Regions from separate parts of the Homo sapiens genome. Here region 1 is linked to region 2. A link means that fine-mapping ties the variant in region 2 to the expression of a gene that starts in the linked region. Tissue or cell type: pancreas. Region 2 holds a variant in brackets; the other region holds the start of a gene. All regions are shown on one strand. Distances are from middle to middle.

Region 1 (4,156 bases), 27 kb before region 2:
CAGTTTACAAGAGGCTTTGGGGGAGGGCTTTACCCCCCGGGATAATGGGAGGCGTGGAGCCACGGTTTGCTGCGGTCTTTGCTCTCTGGGCAGTGAGGCCTTCTGTTGTTTACCTTAGGCTGCCTCTGAAGCTCCCAGATCCCTGCCTAGACATGATCTCACTCTCTCAAATCATCCCTGCGAGGCAGACAGGAGTCTGGGTCCAACTTCCCCCACTTCACAGGTGGGAAAACTGAGGGATTCACACATGTGTGTGCCGCAAGACACACACACACACACACACACACACACACACACACACACACACAGAGCAAATATGTTGACAAGTTGCTCTGCAGTCCTGGGGTCCTGTGCCTGCAGTTATTTGGAAGGTGAGAGGTCCATGATAGGGCCTGGCCCAGCGGCGTTCAGCAAGTGCCTCAAAATTCATGGGCCTTCTAGTGATATCCCACAGCCTAACACAGGGCCCTGCCTCCAGGGAGCCTGTGGTCAGTATCAGCAGGTGAGAGGAGCCTAAAGAGATGCATCCTGCGTTGCTGAAGTTCCTGAGTCCAGTTCTAAGGCAGCTCTACAGGCACATTTCGCCAGGCATGGTGGCTCATGCCTGCAACCACAGCACTTTGGAAGGCCAAGGTGGGAGGATCACTGAGGCCAGGAGTTCAAGACCAGCCTGGGCAATACAGCAAGACCCTCGTTTCTACAAAGAATTAAAAATTAAAAATTTAGCCAGGCGTGGTGGTGCACACCTGCAGTCCCAGCTACTCAGGAGTCTGAGGCAGGAGGATGACTCGAATCCAAGAGATCAAGTCTGCAGTAGGAGCTGTGATCACGCCACTGCACCTCCAATCTGAGCAACACAGTGAAACCCTGACTCTAGGGGATAACAAAAGTCACATTTCATGAGGGCAGGCCTTGCGTGTGGTAGCAAGAGCTATGGTGGAGAGGGACCACCCCTGAGGGTTGGTGGGCTGCCTGGGGACGGTGCCCAGTGCTGGACAATCCACACAGCTCCTCTCCAATTGTTGTGGCTTCCCAACACCCCTGTAAAAGAAGAATTGCTATGATCCTGCTCTACAAATAAGAAAATTGAGGCCCACAGCTCACCCAGGAGCACAGAGCAAGCCAGTCAGCAGTGGCTGGCCATCTGGCTGCAGGTCCTGAGCTTTGTCCACACCACCAAGCCACAGTCTCCCTAGCAGGGAGGCGCACAAAACTATCAGAGGCAGAGGAAAGGGGTGGCCTCTGCCAGGTGAGGAGCCAGACGGCCTGCTTCGCAGATCCCTTCCAGCTGGCTTTGCCTTCCAGTGCTGAGGTGGGGTGAAGGAGGAAAGGCCGAGCTGGGAGAGGAGCAGGCGCTCGCCACAACCACCCCCACCCTGCTCTCCACGCGCCAGGTCCTGCACGCTGGGTGGGAGGGTGACGACAAGGATGGAGGAGCAGGGCCCCACCCCCGCCCTCCCAGGGCGCACCATCTGCAGCAGAGAGGGCCTTGAGCTGCGTGGGAAATGCGGTAGGCAGAGGGACACTGATGAGGGTGGGCCGGCTGACGGCAGCCTTCTCTCAGCCCCGGACCCCTCCCGCCATCCCCAGCCCTGCCCCCTCCCTCCTTCCAGCGCCTGTCACTCTTCCTGCCCAAACCAAGCATTTAGCACTTAGCCTCGAACCCTCAGCTGACTCCTCATCTAGGACTCCGTCCATCTCTCCAACTATTGCAGAATCTCCTTCAAGGCAGGGGTTTATGTCCCCCACCCCACGGGCCATGTGACATTTATAACTCTTTGGTGGAATGAGAAGAAAGGTATTTGGGATATGATCAACTCCGGCAATGCCATTGTGTGTTTACGGCAACAGCGGGACAGTGGTTCCAGGGGGCGGCCCCGGGCCTCCGTGACGTCACCGGATTGTCGCGTCACCGTCGCCTACCCCGGCGGCGCAACGCGCCCTGCAGGAAAGATGACGTCACCGTCGGAGCTCCTGCAGACCAGTGCGCGCTCGGGGAGTTGGCGAGCGGGTGGCGGCTGGGAGACGTCCCGAGCGCACGGGACTGACAGGCGGCAGAAGCCGGGCGGGGTCCGCTGGGCTCCGGACCCGTGCCCCCCCAGTTCCAGGGCGGCCCCGGGCGGCCCCGCCCCCTCGGTGAATGCCGCGGGCCGGCCAATCCGGGCAGGCCGCGGCGCCGCGCAGCCTATCAGCGGCCAGAGCTCGCGTGCGCTTCCGCGTTCGCGTGCGCTTCCGCGTTCTCGTGAGCTCCCGGCCCGCTGCCGCAGGGACTGGGAGCGGGCTCCGCAGCGCACTCTAGCCCGCGGCTCGGCTCAGTCGGTCTGCGAGGATCCGGCCCGCCGCCCCCCGGGGGACCCGATGGCCTCGGAGGGCCTGGCGGGGGCGCTGGCTTCCGTGCTGGCTGGCCAGGGGTCCAGCGTGCACAGCTGCGACTCGGCGCCGGCCGGGGAGCCGCCGGCGCCCGTGCGGCTGCGGAAGAACGTGTGCTACGTGGTGCTGGCCGTGTTCCTCAGCGAGCAGGTGAGCGGCCGCCCCCGGGCCCGCCGGGCCTCGGGAGCGCGCAGCCAGCCCAGGTGGGGACAGAAGACCCAACGGCCACAGCCAGCGCTGCCGCGTGCGTGGCGCTTCCCAGTTTTGCAAAGCACTCCCACTCCCACTCGCATCTGTGTCCTGCGTTCGTCCCGATATGCAGAAGAGGAAACTGAGGCCCGGGGCCTGTTTGTCTCATCCGACTAGGCCTCATTCCTTCCCTTCCCCAGAGTCTAGCGGAGTGCCCAGGGCCCCTCAGATAGCAGTGGCTCAATCCCGGCTTACCTTCAGGCCTTTGGTGCTGATGCCTGTAGTGGGCGATGTAATGACAACTAGACGGGGCCAGGGCCATAGGGCGGGGTTGTACAGAGCGGAGGTGGGGGTCGTGTTTCAAGCCAGACCCCAGTGTGAGGACCCATCACAGTTTGTAAACCACGCCGTTGGAGGCGAGAGATACACAGTGGCAGGTACAGACGCAAATCAATCCAAGACAGACAGACACATGGTGACCCTCACTCTGGGGCCTCATCTCCAGCCCCTGAAGCGGCTTCCAGGAATCTCAGCCCTTCCTGAAATGGAAGTCTTCCTAAATCCAGAGAGAGACGAATTGCAGAGAGGAGAGGGCTGCAGCCCCCAGCGACACGAGGGCAGGTCTCCTGGAGCGCTAGCTGGGTTGAGAGTGTCCACCCAGAGGGGAGTCTTGGGCGACTGTGTTTGAGATGCCCCCTGGTCCCGGGGCGAGGGAAGGCTGTGGCAGGAAGTGAGGATCCTCTCTCCTCTCAGGATGAGGTGCTACTGATCCAGGAGGCCAAGAGGGAGTGCCGGGGGTCGTGGTACCTGCCTGCGGGGAGAATGGAGCCAGGGGAGACCATCGTGGAGGCGCTGCAGCGGGAGGTGAAGGAGGAGGCGGGGCTGCACTGTGAGCCCGAGACACTGCTGTCCGTGGAGGAGCGGGGCCCCTCCTGGGTCCGCTTCGTGTTCCTCGCTCGCCCCACAGGTATGGCCCACCTGGAGGCAGTGTGAACAGGGCCAGTTGACACCTTTCCCCCAGCTCCTCGGTGAGGTGAGCCCCTCTACAGCCAGTCCTGTTATGGCTGGCACAGCCTGGCATGGGCAGATTCCAGCCTTTGGGCTGGGGGCCTCTCTCCTGGGTCAGGGATGTCTGTTGACTCTGCCAGAGCTGCACTTCTCTCCACACAGACCCTCCCTGCCCCATCCCCCACATCTCCCCCAGGTGGAATTCTCAAGACTTCCAAGGAGGCCGATGCGGAGTCCCTGCAGGCTGCCTGGTACCCACGGACCTCCCTGCCCACTCCGCTGCGAGCCCATGACATCCTGCACCTGGTTGAACTAGCCGCCCAGTATCGCCAGCAAGCCAGGCACCCTCTCATTCTGCCCCAAGAGCTACCCTGTGATCTGGTCTGCCAGCGGCTCGTGGCTACCTTTACCAGCGCCCAGACAGTGTGGGTGTTAGTGGGCACAGTGGGGATGCCTCACTTGCCTGTCACTGCCTGTGGCCTCGACCCTATGGAGCAGAGGGGTGGCATGAAGATGGCCGTCCTGCGGCTGCTGCAGGAGTGTCTGACCCTGCACCACTTGGTGGTGGAGATCAAGGGGTTGCTTGGAC
Region 2 (4,143 bases):
CTTTCCCCCTGAGTCCCCAGAGTCCATCGTGGGTTTTTTGTTTGTTTTTTTGTGACAGAGTCTTGCTCTGTAGCCCAGGCTGGAGTGCAGTGGCACGACCTCGGCCTACTGCAACCTCTGCCTCCCAGGTTCAAGCGATTCTCATGCCTCAGCCTCCTGAGTAGCTCGGATTACAGGCGTGTGCCACCATGCCCAGCTAATTTTGTGTATGTTTAGTAGAGACGGGGTTTCGCCATGTTGCCCAGGCTGGTCTCAAACTTCTGAGCTTAGGCAATCCTCCCGCCTCGGCCTCCCAAAGTGCTGGGATTACAGGCTTAAGCCACTGCGCCTGGTCCCTTGTGACGTTCTTATGCCTTTGCGACCTCATAGCTTAGCTCCCACTTATGAGTGAGAACATATGATGTTTGGTTTTCCACTCCTGAGTTACTTCACTTAGAATAATAGTCTCCAGTGCCATCCAGGTTGCTGTGAATACCATTAGTTCATTCCTTTTTATGGCTGAGTAATATCCCATCATGTATATGCTCTAAATTCTCATGAATTGAAAATCCTTTGGGACCTAGGGTCAAACCTGCCCGTACTACATACAGTTCCCAAACCCTGTCTCCAGCACCCCTTAGGGTTCAATGACCTTGACATTTTCCCGAACAGCCTGGGAGCTCTTTTTGGACAACGGGCACGTCAACCTGGTCACTGCTGTGTTCCCCATGCTCAGAGCAGGGTTAAGCCCCCCAGCAGTTTCTGAATGCCTTGTATTGGGTATGTGTGCAGAGCCCATTTCTTTCTGCCCCTCCTAGTCTGCCCTCCTCTGCTTCTCCTTCACAGACAACAGTACCTATTGGGAAAGTCCTAGAAACCTGAATCCTGTCACCACTCTCCACTCATTGGTTTCCTGTAGCTCTGGGCTTCAGAGGAATTGTCTCTGTCCCACCATTTTCTCATTTGCTAAGAAGATGACAGTGATCTGTTCTGTTGACCTCATAGGTTTGCTGAAGGGATAAAATGATGTTGTGGATGCAACAGAACTCCTACAATGTAAAATAATCGTTCACATTTGAGGGGTTCTTATCCACTTTGCTTATTTCAGCCACAGGGGCTAGGAACTCAACCAGGGTACTCAGGCTAGGCCCCAGCTCCAGTCGCAGGTTCACAAGTTGCGCACCCTCCAACTCACCTGGTCCCTCTGACTGCACGCCTCTTCATGTGCCCACACATGGTTCTGCTCCAGCCAGGTGGGGCTGGCCCCTCCCCACGTAAGCACCCACACCTGCAGGCAGTCCTCCTTCTGGTCTTCCCGTCAGATCCGCAGCCCCTCTCCCACCTCCCACCCGCAACACGCAATTCCCTGTCTTTTCCCCTTGGGAGGCCTTACCAAGTCAACCAAGACCAAATTCCCATCTTCCTCCCTTGGCCTCCACTTGACTCGTCCTCCAACTGCCATTTCTCCATTCCTTAGTTTCCCCTGCCTGATTCTTGGCAATCAGCTCACCACACACTCACATCCTGCTGACCTTTTCTGTGTTCGGCCTCCCCATTGAACCATGAGCACCCTGCCCCTTGGGAGGGACAACCATGTCTGATGTTGAGCTTGGCTACCAAGGCGAGCACGTTGGGATTTGGTGGAGGGCTGGGGCAGTCTTTCCTCCCAGCCAGTTCTCTACCAGCCTCCTCCCTGAGGTGTGAGTTCCCTCTGGCCCCAAACACAAGGGTTCCTGCCCCCATCACAGAGTCCCTGAAGGAGAGGCAGACAGGCCCCTGTCTAGACAGCCCCTGCTTCTGTGGCCCAGGCTTGGGGGAAAGAGTACTGCGGGGCTGTGTCTCCAGCCCTCCAGCCCTAGGCGGCCCCTGCATTGGAACCCTTGCTCCCAGGGCTTCCCTCTGCCTGATATGGCTTGTCTCGTTCACCCAGGTCTGGTGGCTCATAAGGAAAAGACAGATGTAGGGACCCAATGCAACCTTTTAATTCCAAGCAGAGTCCCCCTCCCCCAGCATGGTCACACACACAGTGGAAAGGGATGTCAGGGTCTGGGCAGGAGCAATACCCAGACCTGGGCAAAAATATAGATATCATTATATACACACGTGGACTGGAAAGAAGTCAAGCTGGGGGTGTAAGGTAGGGCAGGGGCAGGTGAGGAAAGCAGCTGGGGGGGCCCCAATAAATTACATTCTTGAGAGAGCATAGTGTGTGGGGGGGTGCGTGGGTGTAGGTGAGAGCTGGTAGCCAGGACACTCCAAAATGTGCCAGGCCTGGCCTCTTGACCCCATC[C/T]AAGGGAGGCGGAAGGCCCAGCTTCTGCCCGGTGCCTGGCTTAGTGCTGGAATTCCCATTTCGTGGCCTGGAGGCAGGTGGAGGGCCAGGATCGTGTGTAGGCGGCATCTCCACCCTAAGCCCAGGCTTCTGGGGAAGCCGCAGGGCTGGAGCAAAAGGCTTGGAAGCTCGGGGTTTGCGAGCGGAGGTCAGGGCAAGCTGAAGTGGAGGGGTGACCTCCCTGCCGGAGGCTGAGCTGGGGCCTGTTCCCACTAGAGTCAGAGGAGCAGGAGGCTGCAGTGCAGGAAAGCTGTCAGGAGTGAGTATGGGAGGGCTGGGTGGGCGACACAAGAGCCTGGAGCTCTTTCTGCCTGGCCGCTTCCCACCCCTGCATCTTCCCTCCAGCTGTTCAAGACAGCCAACCGGCCTAACCACCAATGCCCCTCATTCCTCCTCACCCTCTGGGGTGAGGGGCAGGGAGAGGGCGCAAACATGAACTCTGTGTGCCAGAGCCCAGACTGGCTTTGCCCTGTGCAGGGAGGGCCAGGGACGAGAGCAGGAGGCCCCCAGCCTTGTGAGGGGGAAGAAAGTCCATAGCTCACTGCCGGGGACTGCAGAGGTTTTGGCCCCCCACTCTACCTGAGGAAAGGAGCCCACCCTATTTCCACCCCACCTCCTGCCCCTCCCAACCCGCCGGGGAAAAACCCTGAAGCAGCAGGGGTAAGGGGGCCGTCCCGGAGCAGGTGGGGGCCATCAGAAGAGAGAGGCCTTCTTCTTGAGCTCATTCCGCTTCCACAGAGCCAGCTTGCCAAACTCTTCAGGGGACATGGCAAATACCCTTGAGAAGTCCTCGGCAGACAGATGCCTCTACATGGGGGAATCGGGGCAGCTCAGCATGGAGGGGGAGGGGGCTGTGCCCAGTGACCTAGGGGACACTCACTCATAGAGGCCCCAGATCTTCCCCCAGGCAGGAGAGTGCCCGTGGACAGCCCCGCACCCATCCAGGGCATCTTCCTTGCCTACCTCAAGCCGCATCCGATCCACCCCCGGTGGCAGCTTGGTTCGCCCCTTGTTGGTCACCACTAGCATTTCATAGGGATAGATCTGGGGGTGGGGGGAGGGGCAATCTTAGGCTCACAGAATATCCTGTCCTTCGACTCCCTAGGCCTCCCACATCAACCTGCAGAGGCCACTGGGGTTCATGCCATCTTGCCCTCTGTCTCCCCCAACTTCCCTGCCATCCCTCCCATCTTCAACACCAGGAAGACCCCGCAGCACATTCCACTTGCCTGGCATCTCCCCAGCCTCCCGCCCCGCTACAGGCGCTTGTGTCCCCTGCCCCTCACCTTCTGCTCCAGCACACAGGGCAGGGAGTTCCCCCGGTCCATCCTCCCCCTCTGGCCCTCTCCGTTCTGGGGAGACCAAAGCCGCAGTGAGCCAGAGCGGGGCAGGGAGACCTTCCCAGCCTTACCCCGGCTTCTTCTTCTTCACCAGGCAACTCTGTGGCCCCACACCCCCCTTCCCCTGACACTTTCGGGTGCCAGGACCCAGCTTCTGCTGCTCTGCCTGTTCCCCTCCAGGAGGCACTCACCTGCAGGCCTGCGGGAGAGAAGGGGCATGGGTCAGATGCAGCTCTGAGGTCAGCAGGCCAACACGCCTGACCTCACCAGACCCCTGCCCACAGCCCAGACCCCGGCTGCCCAGGGACCTGTGTAAGCCCCTTCTCCAGACCCCGGCACCAGGCCCCACTTCTCACCTGGGCTTCCAGTCTCACTCCCTGATGGGCTGAACTCTGTGGACTGTAGCTAGAAAGGACACAAAGGAATCAGAGGCAGTCGGGGATATTCACCTTTGGTCCCCTTCACTTTGGGGGTCTCCCCGCTCCCTGAGGGTGC

The links. PIP is the estimated chance that this variant, and not a neighbour inherited with it, causes the effect.
Region 1: it holds the start of NUDT18, and the variant in region 2 is fine-mapped to the expression of NUDT18 in pancreas (GTEx, PIP 0.99).

What each region holds. Positions count from the first base shown.
Region 1 is chr8:22,107,503-22,111,658 of GRCh38, reverse strand. It overlaps NUDT18 (nudix hydrolase 18), which reads left to right and starts at 2,240. Exons shown (of 3, transcript NM_024815.4): 1 at 2,240-2,520; 2 at 3,313-3,526; 3 at 3,764-4,156. The coding sequence starts at 2,359. RefSeq lists a silencer at 1,887-2,666 and an enhancer at 3,126-3,899.
Region 2 is chr8:22,080,322-22,084,464 of GRCh38, reverse strand. It overlaps DMTN (dematin actin binding protein), which reads right to left. Exons shown (of 16, transcript NM_001387751.1): 12 at 4,005-4,053; 13 at 3,840-3,847; 14 at 3,595-3,660; 15 at 3,272-3,352; 16 at 1,940-3,115. The coding sequence ends at 3,002. Among named protein-coding and RNA genes, the nearest start is that of FHIP2B, 6.8 kb to the left of the region's middle. The variant C/T (reference allele first, on the strand shown) is at 2,270.